Linked DNA regions of Homo sapiens: all the other regions are linked to region 1. The links come from fine-mapping of genetic effects on gene expression. A gene starts in region 1. Each other region holds a variant in brackets. All regions are shown on one strand. Distances are between the middles of the regions.

Region 1 (2,756 bases):
GCGGACCTGTGTTCAGAACCTGCCTTCATACTTTTCAGCCATGCTCTTTGGAATAATGAAAGATACGAAGAAGTCAGTGGGAAGATAGACATGGGGAGGGGGACATAGAGGGTGCCTTTGCGTTTTGCTACCCAGGACCCAGGACTCAAGGGCAGGGTGGTCTTGGCCTGGGGTCGCCGTCCTCTTTAAGGGGCGGGTCAAGGGACCCTGGCTGCCCGGGCCTCTGCCACCGACCCTCTGCTCCCTCCGACCCTCACCGCCCAGCACCCAGCCCTCTGCCCCCACCGGCCACCCTGTAACAGCCCAGCGGGTTCACCTTGCCTGCTGCCTAGACAGAGCCGATTTATCAAGACAGGGGCATTGCAATAGAGAAGGAGTAATTCACACAGATCAGGCTGCGCGGGACACTGGGCAGAGTTTTTAAGGACAACTTGGTGGGTGGGGGAAGGCCAGTGAGTCGAGAGTGCTGATTGGTTGGGTCGGAGGTGAAATCTTAGGGAACTGAAGCTGTCCTCTTGTGCTGAGTTAGTTCCGGAGTGGGGGCCTAAGATCAGATGACCTGGTTTATCGATCTGGTAGGTGTCAGTTGATCCATCAAGTGCAGGGTCTGCAAAATATCTTGAGCACTGATCTTATTAGCAGTTTAGGGAGGGTCAGAATACTGTAGCCTTGCTGCCTGACTCCTAAATCATACTTTCTAATCTTTTGGTTAATTTGTTAGTCCTACAAAGACAGTCTATTCCCCAGGCAAGAAGGAGGTTTGTTTTCAGAAAGGGCTGTTATCATCTTTGTTTTAAACTATAAAGTATAAACTAAGTTCCTCCCAAAGTTAGTTCAGCCAACGCCCAGGAATGAACAAGGACAGCTTGGAGGTTAGAAGCAAGATGGAGTTGGTTAGGTCAGATCTCTTTCATTATCTGTTATAATTTTGCAATGGCGGTTTCAACCTAGTGGCCGAACCCGTCCCATCCATCTCCCGCGCCCCTCCGCTCCACCACAGCCCTCGGTGCCTCGGTTCCCTGCACCTGCACTCCCGCCCGCCCCCGACGCTCCGCCCCCGACGCTCCGCCCGCCCTCCACGCTCCGCCCCGCCCTCCCGGCCCCCGCCTGCGCCCGCGCCCTGGGCTGGTGCCCGCCACCCCAGCGATCTCATACTGGCCCCTGGGCGCACGGTGACCCTGCGGCTGCCCGGCCCCTGCCTCCGCCCGCGCGGCCCCCTCGCTCAGGTCGCGGGCGCCCGGGGCCTGGCTTCGCGTGGGTCCTGGCTCCTCCCGTTCCGCAGTTGGTGCCGTCTGACAGCCCCTTCCGCGCGGCGCGGCGCGGCGCGGCGGGTGTCGGGCGGGGCGCGGGCCTCCGGCCTGAGGCCCGGCGAGGTGCTGGAGGGAGCGGGGCGCGGATCCGGCCCAGATGGGCAGCTCCGTCCGCGGGGTCAGGGCCGGGCTTCGGCTTCACCGCAGCCTCGCCTGAGCGGGCGCCTCTGAAGTGGAGGGCGGGCCGCCTGGGCCGCGGGCCTCGGGAGGATGGTGGCGCCCTGGCGCGTCTCCGTCAGGGTTTGCCTGTCGCACCTGAGGTGCTTCGAGCTCAGACAGGGACTCAGCCTCCTGAGGCCCTCCGAGTGCCCTCGCGATGCCAGGCTCTGCTGGCTTCTGCTGGGCACTTTGCCCAAGGTCGTCTCCCTGTGCGGGGACGTGGGTGAGGGGGCCCCTGACGTTCTGAGTCGGCGAAGGGTCCGCTGCAGCGGGGCGGCTGGCGCGGGGCCCGCGGAGAGCCTCCCCCGAGCGGGACCTCTGGGCGGCGTCTTCCTGCATCTCCGCCTCTGGCTTCGCGCCGGCGCTCTGTTGGTGAAATTCTTCCCCCTCCTACTCCTCTACCCCCTCACCTACCTGGCTCCCAGCGTCTCCACCCTCTGGCTCCACCTGCTTCTGAAAGCCACCGAGACCTCAGGCCCAACCTACATCAAACTGGGCCAGTGGGCCAGCACCCGGCGCGATCTGTTTTCGGAGGCTTTCTGTGCCCAATTTTCCAAGCTGCATGTCCGAGTGACGCCCCACCCGTGGACTCACACTGAGCGCTTCCTTCGGCAGGCTTTTGGGGATGACTGGGGGAGCATCCTCTCTTTTGAGAACCGGGAACCTGTGGGCTCAGGCTGCGTGGCCCAGGTGTACAAAGCATACGCCAACACTGCCTTCCTGGAGACTGACAGCGTCCAGAGACTTGGCAGGGCCTCCTGTCTGCCGCCCTTCTCACATACTGGGGCAGTCGGTGGGCTGAGAGAGCTCTTTGGATACCTTGGAAATGGCCGGAAACCTCCAGAAAATCTCGCAGACCAGTCGTTTCTAGAAAGGCTGCTCCTCCCTAAAGCTGACCTGGTTGGATCAAATGCAGGGGTGTCTCGGGCTCAGGTCCCTGGCCACCAACCTGAGGCCACCAACCTCATCTCCGTGGCAGTGAAAGTAAGTGTTGTGAGAGCTCACAGCTCACCTACCCACTGAGCTATCCCAGATCAGAAACAACCGCCATGCAAATCGCCCCCACGTTTATTTCTATTTGCCTGACCAATATCTGAGTGCTTATTTCATGCAAGCTGTTTCATTTATTGGCTTGAAGTGGCGGTGTGAATAGTCTGATAGAGGAAAATGAACTGAGTCTGGAGTGAACTAACTGCTTGGGTGTCGGGACCACATCCTCTTTTCTTTGATAAGAAGCCACCTGGCTCTTGCTTGGATGGTGGGACCCAGCCCTGGCTGGGTAAAATG
Region 2 (2,756 bases), 39 kb after region 1:
AGAGATTTTGGGTTGAGACGATGGGGTTTTCTAGATATACAATCATGTCATCTGCAAACAGGGACCATTTGACTTCCTCTTTTCCTAATTGAATACCCTTTATTTCCTTCTCCTGCCTGATTGCCCTGGCCAGAACTTCCAACACTATGTTGAATAGGAGTGGTGAGAGAGGGCATCCCTGTCTTGTGCCAGTTTTCAAATGGAAAGCTTCCAGTTTTTGCCCATTCAGTATGATATTGGCTGTGGGTTTGTCATAGATAGCTCTTAATATTTTGAGATACGTCCCATCAATACCTAATTTATTGAGAGTTTTTAGCATGAAGGGTTGTTGAATTTTGTCAAAGGCCTTTTCTGCATCTATTGAGATAATCATGTGGTTTTTGTCTTTGGTTCTGTTTATATGCTGGATTACATTTATTGATTTGCGTATGTTGAACCAGCCTTGCATCCCAGGGATGAAGCCCACTTGATCATGGTGGATAAGCTTTTTGATGTGCTACTGGATTCGGTTTGCCAGTATTTTATTGAGGATTTTTGCATCGATGTTCATCAAGGATATTGGTCTAAAATTCTCTTTTTGGGTTGTGTCTCTGCCAGGCTTTGGTATCAGGATGATGCTGGCCTCATAAAATGAGTTAGGGAGGATTCCCTCTTTTTCTATTGATTGGAATAGTTTCAGAAGGAATGGTACCAGTTCCTCTTTGTACCTCTGGTAGAATTCGGCTGTGAATCCATATGGCCCTGGACTCTTTTTGGTTGGTAAGCTATTGATTATTGCCTCAATTTCAGAGCCTGTTACTGGTCTATTCAGAGATTCAACTTCTTCCTGGTTTAGTCTTGGGAGGATGTATGTGTCGAGGAATTTATCCATTTCTTCTAGATTTTCTAGTTTATTTGCATAGAGGTGTTTGTGGTATTCTCTGATGGTAGTTTGTATTTCTGTGGGATCGGTGGTGATATCCCCTTTATCATTTTTTATTGCGTCTATTTGATTCTTCTCTCTTTTCTTCTTTATTAGTCTTGCTAGCAGTCTCAATTTTGTTGATCTTTTCTAAAAACCAGCTCCTGGATTCATTAATTTTTTGAAGGGTTTTTGTGTCTCTATTTCCTTCAGTTCTGCTCTGATCTT[A/C]GTTATTTCTTGCCTTCTGCTAGCTTTTGAATGTGTTTGCTCTTGCTTTTCTAGTTCTTTTAATTGTGATGTTAGGGTGCCCATTTTAGATCTTTCCTGCTTTCTCTTGTGGGCATTTAGTGCCATAAATTTCCCTCTACACACTGCTTTGAATGTGTCCCAGAGATTCTGGTCTGTTGTGTCTTTGTTCTCATTGGTTTCAAAGAACATCTTTATTTCTGCCTTCATTTCATTATTTACCCAGTAGTCATTCAGGAGCAGGTTGTTCAGTTGCCATGTAGTTGAGTGGTTTTGAGTGAGTTTCTTAATCCTGAGTTCTAGTTTGATTGCACTGTGGTCTGAGAGACAGTTTGTTATAATTTCTGTTCTTTTACATTTGCTGAAGAGTGCTTTACTTCCAACTATGTGGTCAATATTGGAGTAAGTGTGGTGTGGTGCTGAAAAGAATGTATATTCTGTTGATTTGGGGTGGAGAGTTCTGTAGATGTCTATTAGGTCCGCTTGGTGCAGAGCTGAGTTCAATTCCTGGGTATCCTTGTTGACTTTCTGTCTCGTTGATCTGTCTAATGTTGACAGTGGGGTGTTAAAGTCTCCCATTATTATTGTGTGGGAGTCTAAGTCTCTTTGTAGGTCACTAAGGACTTGCTTTATGAATCTGGGTGCTCCTGTATTGGGTGCATATATATTTAGGATAGTTAGCTCTTCTTGTTGAATTGGTCCCTTTACCATTATGTAATGGCCTTCTTTGTCTCTTTTGATCTTTGTTGGTTTAAAGTCCATTTTATCAGAGACTAGGATTGCAACCCCTGCCTTTTTTTGTTTTCCATTTGCTTGGTAGATCTTCCTCCATCCCTTTATTTTGAGCCTATGTGTGTCTCTGCATGTGAGATGGGTTTCCTGAATACAGCACACTGATGGGTCTTGCCTCTTTATCCAGTTTGCCAGTCTGTGTCTTTTAATTGGAGCATTTAGCCCATTTACATTTAAAGTTAATATTGTTATGTGTGAATTTGATCCTGTCATTATGCTGTTAGCTGGTTATTTTACTCATTAGCTGATGCAGTTTCTTCCTAGCCTTGATGGTCTTTACAATTTGGCATGTTTTTGCAGTGGCTGGTACTGGTTGTCCCTTTCCATGTTTAGTGCTTCCTTCAGGAGCTCTTGTAGGGCAGGCCTGGTGGTGACAAAATCTCTCAGCATTTGCTTGTCTGTAAAGTATTTTATTTCTCCTTCACTTATGAAGCTTAGTTTGGCTGGATATGAAATTCTGGGTTGAAAATTGTTTTCTTTAAGAATGTTGAATATTGGCCCCCACTCTCTTCTGGCTTGTAGAGTTTCTGCTGAGAGATCCGCTGTTAGTCTGATTGGCTTCCCTTTGTAGGTAACCCGACCTTTCTCTCTGGCTGCCCTTAACATTTTTTCCTTCATTTCAACTTTGGTGAATCTGACAATTATGTGTCTTGGAGTTGCTCTTCTCGAGGAGTATCTTTGAGGTGTTCTCTGTATTTCCTGAATTTGAATGTTGGCCTGCCTTGCTAGATTGGGGAAGTTCTCCTGGATAATATCCTGCAGAGTGTTTTCCAACTTGGTTCCATTCTCCCTGTCACTTTCAGGTACACCAATCAGA
Region 3 (2,756 bases), 41 kb before region 1:
TAGTGGTCCTGGGAGTGTGGGACACCCTATTTACCAACCAGAATAGAAGTATTTCAGTATTTTGACAAGTGGCGCAGATTCATCACTGCACCCATTTTACATCCACCTTGACTTGTGTTTCAAGAAGGAAGGGTCAGGGGTGTGTCAAGTGCATTAGTGAGATCAAGAAGCATGAGAACAGGGAACTGGCCACAGACGAACCATTAGTAACCTAAGATATGGTTTCAGCAGATGGATAGGAATAGAAGCCAGATTTCGGGGGTGTGGGGAAGGAACATGTGGATCTGCCTCGTGGGACTCTTGCATTTGTTCTGCTTCTTTCTTGGTCCCAAAAGGAGCATTCTCTTTCTCGTTTTCTCTGACAAATTGGCAGCCTGAACCTCGGGGTTGTGTGTGTACCCAGAAGCAGCCTCTTAGCCCCTTTACCCATCTCTCTCAGTTCTGTACCAGACCAGGAATCTTGGCTGTCCTATATTCAAGGGAAAGAAGAGCCTGGAATAAGAGGCTCTCTTGGCTCTCTGTGGTGCTGGAATCTTCAAGTCTGATTGTTTTGAGAGGGATTAAGAAGCTCTCTCTTCTCTGACATTTTTCCACCCTATTAGATGCATCAGTCAGCTGGAGGGTAAACAGAGGGCACTGGTCCCCTTCTGATATCCTGGAAGGTTGTCTATGTTTGTTGATTGTCACAAATACAGATGATGAAATGAACCAGATGACAGTCACCACAAGATGCCAGGGAGTTATATTTGGGGTTGGATGACCACACACTTCATGACAAATCTGAACAAATCTCATCTGCAGCTCAGAGTATTAAGTAGAGAATCCCTCTGAGTCTCCAGGGTGCTGGAGACATTGCCCTGGCTGAAGATCCCAGAGCACGAGGCAAGCTGCTTCGGGAAGTTCCTTTCTATCTTCGCGGTCACCACCCCGACCAAATCTGCGGCTGAGAGACTAGTCTCACTCCAAGCTCGGGAGATGCAAGTTCTATGTCTTAGGCTGTCCTGTCATTTCTATCTAGTAACCAAACTAGAGCATATAGCTTCTCCC[C/A]CAACCAAGTTCAACCTGGACCATGCCGGGTCAGTCTGAATTGTGATTTGCTGTGTGATCCCTTACAAATGCCTCTGCTTGGTCATCTGGGGAGGTTTAGCCTATATTTACCAGGCACATGAAATGCCAAATAAAATTATAGAAGTGTCCTGTTTTAATGCTTCAAAGTTTGCTGGAAGAAGACAGGCAGTTACTATTTTTCCATGGTGAGCTGGGAGAGGCAGTGAAAGTAGAATCTGACTCCTCTGATTCATTGAATGGGAGCAAGAAGGAAGTTCATATGCAACCTTGGACTACCCACCTGGCTTCCTCCCCTTCCCTAAACTCAAGCCTCAACTCTAGATGTGGATAAGAAAGGTGGTGGGAGATAGACAGAGGGGTGGTACCAAATCACTTCTGGCTGGGTCAACACACCTGTCCCAGCAAGGAGAATGAATGAGCATATCCAACTCTCAGCCTTTACCAGCGTGGCCACAAGGTGCAGTTTGCAGGGACAGTCCAGGTTAATTAAGCCTATTGTACATCAATTAACAACTTACTTTTAGTGCTTTTTTTCTTTTTTTGAGAAGGAGTTTAGCTCTAGTCAACCAGGCTGGAGTGCAGTGGCGCGATCTCGGCTCACTGCAACCTCTGCTTCCTGGGTTCAAGTGATTCACCTGCCTCAGCCTCCTGAGTAGCTGGGACTACAGGCGCCTGCCTCCACACCCGGCTAATTTTTGTATTTTTAGTAGAGATGGGGTTTCATTGGCCAGACGGATCTCCAACTCCTGACCTCAGGTGATCCGGCCCACCTCAGCCTCCCAAAGTGTTGGGGTTACAGGCATGAGCCACCATGCCTGGCCTTTTTTTTTTTTTTTTTGAGACAGTCTCCCTCTTTTGCCCAGGCTGGAGTCCAGTGGCGCAATCTCAGCTCACTGCAACCTCCACCTCCTGGGTTCAAGCGATTCTCCTGCCTCAGCCTCCTGAGTAGCTGGGATTATAGGCGTGTGCCACCATGCCCAGCTAATTTTTTTTTTTTTTTTTTGAGACAGAGTCTTGCGCTGCCGCCCAGGCTGGAGTGCAGTGGCGCAATCTCGGCTCACTGCAAGCTCCGCCTCCCGCGTTCACACCATTCTCCTGTCTCAGCCTCCTGAGTAGCTGGGACTATAGGCACCTGCCACCATGCCCGACTAATTTTTTGTATTTTTAGTAGAGATGGGGTTTCACCATGTTAGCCAGGATGGTCTCCATCTCCTGACCTCGTGATCCACCCGCCTCAGCTTCCCAAAGTGCTGGGATTACAGGCGTGAGCCACCGTGCCTGGCCCTAATGTTTGTATTTTTATAGAGATGGGGTTTGGCCAGGCTGGTCTCAAACTCCCGACCTCAAGTGATCTACCCGCCTTGGCCGCCCAAAGTGCTAGAATTACAGGTGTGAGCCACCGCGCCTGGCCTAATGCTCTCTTTTTACTTTCTCTACAGTCCTACTTTGTGTATATGGTTACCCTATATTTTACCTACCATAAACTTGCAGAGAATTTAGTGCTGAATCAAATTTGACCATTATTGCATCTTCTCTGCTGAGAAGTGGGGAAGTGTGAGGGAGAGAGAGAGGCCCTTGAAATTGCTTTGCTAGGTTGGCTCTTTTGTGTCACTCGGTCCACCCATCCTAGGTTTCAGCCTACACAACATGTGGAATCATGGTGATGTGCCATCAAGGTTATGGAAACA

Alleles and levels. Positions count from the first base shown, and alleles are read on the strand shown. Sizes are in standard deviations (SD) of each study's normalised expression. Not every link is listed here.
For the expression in testis of the gene that starts at base 1,135 in region 1, allele C in region 2 goes with a higher level than allele A (small effect, 0.34 SD a copy in GTEx).

What was found.
Region 2: its variant is fine-mapped to the expression of ADCK2 in testis (GTEx, PIP 0.90).
Region 3: its variant is fine-mapped to the expression of ADCK2 in whole blood (TOPMed, PIP above 0.99).

Annotation. Positions count from the first base shown.
Region 1 is chr7:140,671,811-140,674,566 of GRCh38, forward strand. It overlaps ADCK2 (aarF domain containing kinase 2), which reads left to right and starts at 1,135. Exons shown (of 8, transcript NM_052853.4): 1 at 1,135-2,453. The coding sequence starts at 1,521. RefSeq lists a silencer at 1,070-1,529.
Region 2 is chr7:140,710,500-140,713,255 of GRCh38, forward strand. No RefSeq gene overlaps it. Among named protein-coding and RNA genes, the nearest start is that of NDUFB2-AS1, 15 kb to the left of the region's middle. The variant A/C (reference allele first, on the strand shown) is at 1,130.
Region 3 is chr7:140,630,976-140,633,731 of GRCh38, forward strand. The region is part of intron 1 of DENND2A (DENN domain containing 2A); the gene reads right to left. Among named protein-coding and RNA genes, the nearest start is that of DENND2A, 8.5 kb to the right of the region's middle. RefSeq lists an enhancer at 2,206-2,706. The variant C/A (reference allele first, on the strand shown) is at 1,048.